Homo sapiens: one gene and its partner. The protein of the gene in region 2 purifies or fractionates together with the protein of the main gene of each other region. This does not show direct contact. Each region holds a gene or a part of one and is shown on either strand. Other genes may lie near its edges.

Region 1 (3,500 bases), on a different chromosome or scaffold from region 2:
CCAGTTCGATGACTGGGGGCTCCGCTGCGGCCGCGCGGCTCGTCTCCTTGGCGACGCCGTTCAGCAGGACCAGGTGCGGGGGGGCCATGCTGGCCTCGGCCGCGTCCCGTCCCTCTAGCTGGGGGTCACTGCGAGCCGCCTCGCTCGGCGGCCGCTCGGTCATCCTGTGGGCAGACAGACAGACAAGCGGATGCCCGCTCTGACGACCGCCCCTGACCCACCGACGTGGGCTGGGGTAAAGGGGAGAAGGGCAGAGAGAGGAACTCACGCACCGAGACGTGAGAAGAGGCAGACAAAGTTAGCGCCACGTGGGGCTAGGGCGGGAGGCCGGTTGGGGCTAGGGTGGGAGGGAAAGAGGGTCTCTGGATTGGGAGAAGGGAGGGGTGCCTGGGAGACACAGAGACTGAGGGCCAAAAGGACAGAGATGGAGGAAGACGACAGAGACACCGGAAGAAAAGGAATACAGCCAGCGACAGAAACACAGAAGGGGAAATCAGGAGGAAGGAAATGTACAAGGAGGCAAGAAAGAGATTACTCTGTCCCCTTTCTCAGGCCTAAAGGGAAGAGGAGGGAACAAATTCCGGATCGTGCTCTTTGGTTTTAGCGGGGAATCTGTCAGGCAGGGGTTCGTTGCTTTAGGAACCTCCCTTGGCCTCTCAGCAATATTCCCAGCCCACCTACAGGCACACACCCAGAAACCCGGTGCGGATGGAAGTAGGGAATTAGAAAGTGGAGGCTACGGGGACTGGGATCCACTCCGCCAGAGCTGGCAGAGAATAATCCCGAGGAACCAGCTCCCTCCACACACACACACACACACATTCGCCCCCGCTGGGGAGTGAGGGAGTGTCTGTCTACACTGAGCAAATCCACTGTGAGTCCTCTGCCCGCCCAGCGGATCTTTACTCCCACTCAGACAGAGATGAGAGGTCGCCAAGGGAAGAAGATGGTGCTGGCCCAACCTCCCTGCACAGTCCACCTCGTTCTGCTCAGCTGGACTCTGAAGTGAGGTCGAGTCTCAAAGAGAGGCCTGGCTGAGGTAGAATGGAGCTGGGCATTTGAAGGGTTCCCTGAGGCCAGTGGGGTCTGGACTCCCATCCAAGAGCAGGACAGGATGTCATGAGGCCCTTGAACTCTTCCAGCCCCCCTCACCGCCATCTCCTGCCTTGGTGTTCTTTGGGAAATGGGAGGAATACCTCCTTTATGCATTTGAAAGTGCTGTGCAAACGTTCAAGTAAACATTATTAACAAGGAGAATGGGCCAGTGAGAAAACTGCCTGGCCGAATGTCAAGTCACTCACAGCCTATCTGTGAGAGAGCCAGACCAGAGCAATAATCTCACTTTGCTCAACCCTCCTGTATTCCCAGAGCAGTGAAACCACCTTGTGACCCCACAAGCATACTCCGAGATGACCACAGCCACTCTACTTCCCACAGGTGTGCTGGGGCTCTTCCATCACCTGGCTTCATCCAGATAGAGCTGGGCACCAGCAAGAACCAAAACAGAAAAATCAGGAGACTCAAGGGCCAGAGTTTGTGAGTTGTGAGTTGTACATATATGATCAACACCACATAAGTTGTTTAAAATAAGCTTTCTGCTCTCTGAATTATATAATTGGGTATTTAAAAGAAGAAAACAAATACAAAAAAACAATTTACCCCCATGCAGAGTCCATCTAAATCATACATAGCAGCCATTGAGCTCCCATACTGCCACTGCAATGCTCTGGACAGGAGTCATCCTAGGAACCATCCCTCCCACCCCAGAAGGGAGAATGGATCATCTGCAGCCTCCTCTGGAGCTTGGCTCAATTGCCACTAGACACCCAGGATGACAGAGAGTCAAGATTCAGACTGCTGTACACCTTCTTTGGGAATGCCAGCCCCCCAGGTCTGGCACAGAAACCACAAAATTCCCTAAGTCCTGGTGTATACAAGCTGTAAAGGCAGTAGGTCCCTGACACTTCATTGGAAGTGAGTTTATGATTTTGGTGGAGACAATAGGTCTCTATCCATAGAATGCAACCACCAAGACACCAAGGCCACTGGAAATGCACCAGAAGTATATCAGCCAGGTCCTCTTGCTCCCAGCAGCAGCGAAATGTGCCAGAAATATACCAACCCCTGGGAAACATACAAGCTTCAAGGTATTGGTTCCCTACCTCACTGCTCTCCGTCCTGACACACCGGTGTGAGCCCAGTGATCCATGCTTAAGCCCCAGCTTCTAACCGAGTGACAGTGTGCACTGCAGTTGCAGACTGAGCTCAAGCTCTGTTATGACACATTTTTACCCTCCAATTAATTCTTAGGCTCCTGCTCTAGCGGTGGATTCCTGAGAGGCAATGGGAGTACATATTCCAGATGAATTGACCCTGGCCACAAATGTCCTCTCCAGACACCTATAAATATCCCATCGCCAAGGTTCCTTGTAAGAAATATATGATTGGATCCCAGGATCTGTGGAGGACCTCTCCCGGCTCCTCCCCACATTTTAGGAAAATCCTGCCGGTTTAGGATTACCAGCCAGAGGTCCATGCCCCAAAGAAGCCACTCACAAACACTGATGGTTGTTGGCGACTAAGCTGCATCACTTGATTTGGATTACAGAAAGGAACGCCCGAGAGATTTTGTTTGTTTTTATTTGGGGAGAATGAAGGAGGAGGGAGATTTTAGACTGAATCGTTCTAGAGTATTTGACGACTACAGCTCCTCTCTCTTTGTACTACGGAGACCCTGCTTATAGCCCCCAACAGGAAATCCTCATCTGCAGTTGCCAGACAGCCAGAATATTTCCACCTGTGCCAGAACAAGACAGAAGACCCCAGGAGATTCTTCCTGGGGACAGGTCTCAAGCAGACCCAATCCCCCATACAGAGAATTTCTTAGATGAAAACAGCCTCAGGCCCTTAGACCCAGCCTCTGGTCTCTCTTCTGGGCCCACACCAGCACAACACCCTGGAGAAGCCCCAAGCCTGCACAAGTACCAAACCCACCAGGGAACAGCACCACCATCCTCGCCTCTACCGGAGAAGAGGGGTGTTCCTGCCTCCCCACCCTAGGCCTCAGGCCTGGGATCAGGGCCCACTCGAGCTGGGACTGCACTAGCCAGGAAGGCTGCCGCCTTCCTCCTGCGGGAGCTCCAGGCACAGTCTGTACCACCCGGATACAGCCGCCCCAAAGTTACCGGCCTTGGGAAACGTCCACAGAACCGGGACCAATGGGAAAGGCCTGGACGACTAAGTCCAACTAGCTGGTTTTACCCTGGGTGGAAAAGGGAAAAAGCCGCTGAATGCCACAGAGGCAGCTACAGCAGTCAGATCCCGATTCCAAGCTCTGGCTGGTCCTCCCCTCCCCCCACCCCCAATCTGAGAATGGGCTCTCCTCTGTCCTGAGCCTTCCTCACCCCAGGCCGGAACACAAGGCCTTCCTAGACACCGTTTCCACCGGCACCATTCCCCTGAAAACTCACCTGGGGCATATTTAGAGAGACCGGCCCCTC
Region 2 (3,500 bases):
TTTTGTAATTTTTCTGCTTCAACCCACATTGTTTTCAGATCTAAATGAGTGTGGCCTGAAGCCCCGGCCCTGTAAGCACAGGTGCATGAACACTTACGGCAGCTACAAGTGCTACTGTCTCAACGGATATATGCTCATGCCGGATGGTTCCTGCTCAAGTATGTCAAGAATCTTAACTGTTTTATAAGTGCTTTGGGCTTGTTTCTGTTGTGCTCTGAGAGCTTGCTTTTGTGAAAATGGCCTCCGGGGTTCTCCTAAACAAGATGTGTGCGTGTGTTTATACTTTTGCCTGAGGAATTGAAAATCAAAATAAGAGGCACCATTTTCGATGTATAATACTCTTCTATCACGGGTGCCAATATTAAATTGATTAGGAAATGGTGTTTAGAATAAGAATTACAAAACTAAGTATGTTTTCTAATTTTTTTTTTAAACATGTTTACCCATGTCTTCTATCTGGGCATAGAAGAATGATTCCAGGCTAAAAAAAAAAAAAAAAGAACACTACTGACTATTTAGGGACTGCTCAGACAGAATCCATCAGGTCTGTTTTGTAATTTTAAATCATTCATAAATATTTTCTTCATTTTTATATTTCATTATAAAAGCCTTTAGGCTTTTATAGAATTTTAGACTCTAATAATAGTCTAAGACTTCTAAAAAACAATTTCAAATAAAAAATAAATGAATATGATACCAGAAAAGTAGGATTCATGTTTATAAGGAAGAAATGCATGTTTTCACCATCATTTGGATGTAAAAAATGGACTATGCCCTAAAATTCTCTATAGGCTGACTCCTGAATTGTGGTATTCATATGATATCTGACAATTAATGACTTGATTTTTATTTTTACTGAATTATCATTTAACTGAGTTGCATAAAATAAAGTTAGCTAATTTTATTTAACATTGCATAAGTATAGCATGGAACTTTTTGGAATTAGGTGAATACATGTTTAACATTGTGCAACTCAATGGGAAATCTGCTGTTCCCCTAGAGAAATTTCATGGGCATTTGAGACAGTTACTTGGATGATTAGTTAAGAATAGCGTTTAGCTTGAGTAATCTGGAAAAATACCTCAATTCTTCACTTTCCTTGGCCACTGGAAAAATTTCCAGATAATCTATATATGATAGTTTTATATTTGTCTTTTAATGCTTTCTTTCCTTCCCCCTTTTATTTTCTTTAGATGTTTGATAGTTAAGGCCTCTTTGTCTTCATTGTTGTTCAGTGTCACTGATTTCAGGACAAGTGAAAAAACATAGCTATTTCCATTACAGATTTTGTTTTCTACCTGTCTGAGTCAGCCAGTCACTCTCTTTCCAGGTGCCCTGACCTGCTCCATGGCAAACTGTCAGTATGGCTGTGATGTTGTTAAAGGACAAATACGGTGCCAGTGCCCATCCCCTGGCCTGCAGCTGGCTCCTGATGGGAGGACCTGTGTAGGTGAGTTGTAAAATCAAGCATCTCTGTCAGCAGCCTCTGTAGGATAAAGGGAGAAAGTGAAAGGTGATGGGAATAAGGAAAAAAAAGGCAATTACTTACATCAGATAATTAGCTATCGTTCAGAAGATATCAGATGTCTCAGAAGAGGACATCTCTGTGAATGGATAATGGGAGCGTTGTTTTTTAAAAAATGAGAAATAGGAGGAGGCCTCAGGCAGAGGGAACCCTATGTGCAAAGACACTGCAGTTCAGAGGAGCACAATGTTTAGGGAAACGAGAAGAGCTCAGTATTCCTAGAATGTAAGCGGCAAGGGTGAGCAATGAGTGATGAAGCTGAATAGCTAGATTGTATGTGTTGTTCTTCAGGCCTCAGATTTTTTTCTGGTAAATTAGGAAGGCAGTGTAGGATTGAGAGTCTGGACTTTGGTTTTAAACCTGGCTCTTCCATGTACTAGATATGTAACCTTAGGCAAGAGACTTTGTTGCTTTGAGCTTGGGTCTTCTTATCTTTAAAATGGAAATAATACCACATAGAACTGGTAGGAAGATTGAATGAGATCATGGATGCAAAGAGCTTAGCACAATACCTAGCATGTAATAAGCCTTGAATGAATGGAAGTGTTTGGTGATTAGAGTTATTTACTGAGTAATTTCTATACTCCAGACACTGTGCTGAGTGCTAGGATATATAGCAGTGGCCTAAGCACACAAGATTTTGATCCCCACAAAGCTGACATGCTAATGGGGGAGACAGAAAAGAAACAAATACCCCATAAAATTACAGACAATGCCAAGTGTTAACATGAGGTACTGAGAGAAAAACAGAATGTGTCTATTAGCCTTAAGGTAAGACCTGTATCATTAGCCATGTGAAGAAACAGCCAAGCAGCTGAAGACATTGCAGGGCACTGCGGTGAGAGAGAGGTTGGCCTGTGTGAGGTTTTTCAAGGAAGAAGGTCCATGTAGCTCAAGTACAGGGTGTGAGTATGAGGGGTGGTGGCTGGAGATATAATGGGTGAAGTAGGTGAGGGTGATTTGTTGCAGGGCCTTCAAGGACACAGGGGAGGAATGTGGATTTAATTCAAAGTGCAAGTAGAAATAGTTAAAAGATTTTGAGCACAGTAATGATTTGATTGTATGTTTTAATGGAATCATTTTGACAGTTGGGTTGGATATGCTTTGGAGGGGGTAAGTAACAGCAAAAGGAACTGTTTTGAGGCTTTTGTAACAGTCTAACCCAAGAGATGGTGGCTTCAAATAGGGTAGTGGTGGTGGATTAAGAGAAAAGTAGACAGATTCAAATACTTTTTTTTAGAGGTAGAATTAACTGGACTTGATGATATGGGAGTTAAAGGAAAGAGGGTTGTTTCTAATTCAAGAATGACTCATGTTTCTAGTTTAAGCAACTTGGTAGATACAGGTGCAGTATGTGCTAATATATAGAGTGCAAGAAAATAATAACTTGGCTTAGAAGGCTGGGTTGAAATTTGGATATGTGGAATTTATGTTGCCTGTAGGGACAACCAGCTAGATACCGTTTATGATGAGCCACTATATGCTAGGCAACCATTTGTAGTCAGTTATTTATTTTGAAACCCACTCTGTCTTAACATACCCTTGCTCTTCCTAAAATGCTATTGACTTATGTTTCTAGATGTTGATGAATGTGCTACAGGAAGAGCCTCCTGCCCTAGATTTAGGCAATGTGTCAACACTTTTGGGAGCTACATCTGCAAGTGTCATAAAGGCTTCGATCTCATGTATATTGGAGGCAAATATCAATGTCATGGTAATGAAACCCAACCATTGCTTTGTGTTGTTTCTTCCTAGAGCACTGAAAGGTCTCGTAATTGTGGTGATGGCTGGAATGTCAGGGGCAGGGGAGAGTACTGGCGTTAAGTTAAACCAACAGACATCCAGTTTAACCACTGGTAGTTCTCAGTCTACATGTAGTTTATTTCTTCTGTTTATCTGCCAATATTATGTAGATCATCACATTGCCAAAAAAAATCATTTTTGAAACTGTATATATTTTTTATGTCATCATATT

The links. The genes of interacting proteins can lie anywhere in the genome.
Region 1: the proteins of NPNT (region 2) and TAL1 purify together in Homo sapiens (affinity purification with mass spectrometry; one large-scale study listed by BioGRID and IntAct). This does not show direct contact.

The regions. Positions count from the first base shown.
Region 1 is NC_000001.11:47,225,726-47,229,225, forward strand, and holds part of TAL1 (T-cell acute lymphocytic leukemia protein 1), read right to left. Parts: 5' UTR 3,471-3,500; intron 165-3,470; 5' UTR 164-164; coding exon 1-163. UniProt on the Homo sapiens protein: Implicated in the genesis of hemopoietic malignancies. It may play an important role in hemopoietic differentiation. Serves as a positive regulator of erythroid differentiation.
Region 2 is NC_000004.12:105,936,971-105,940,470, forward strand, and holds part of NPNT (nephronectin isoform B precursor), read left to right. Parts: intron 1-38; coding exon 39-158; intron 159-1,330; coding exon 1,331-1,450; intron 1,451-3,104; coding exon 3,105-3,239; intron 3,240-3,500. UniProt on the Homo sapiens protein: Functional ligand of integrin alpha-8/beta-1 in kidney development. Regulates the expression of GDNF with integrin alpha-8/beta-1 which is essential for kidney development.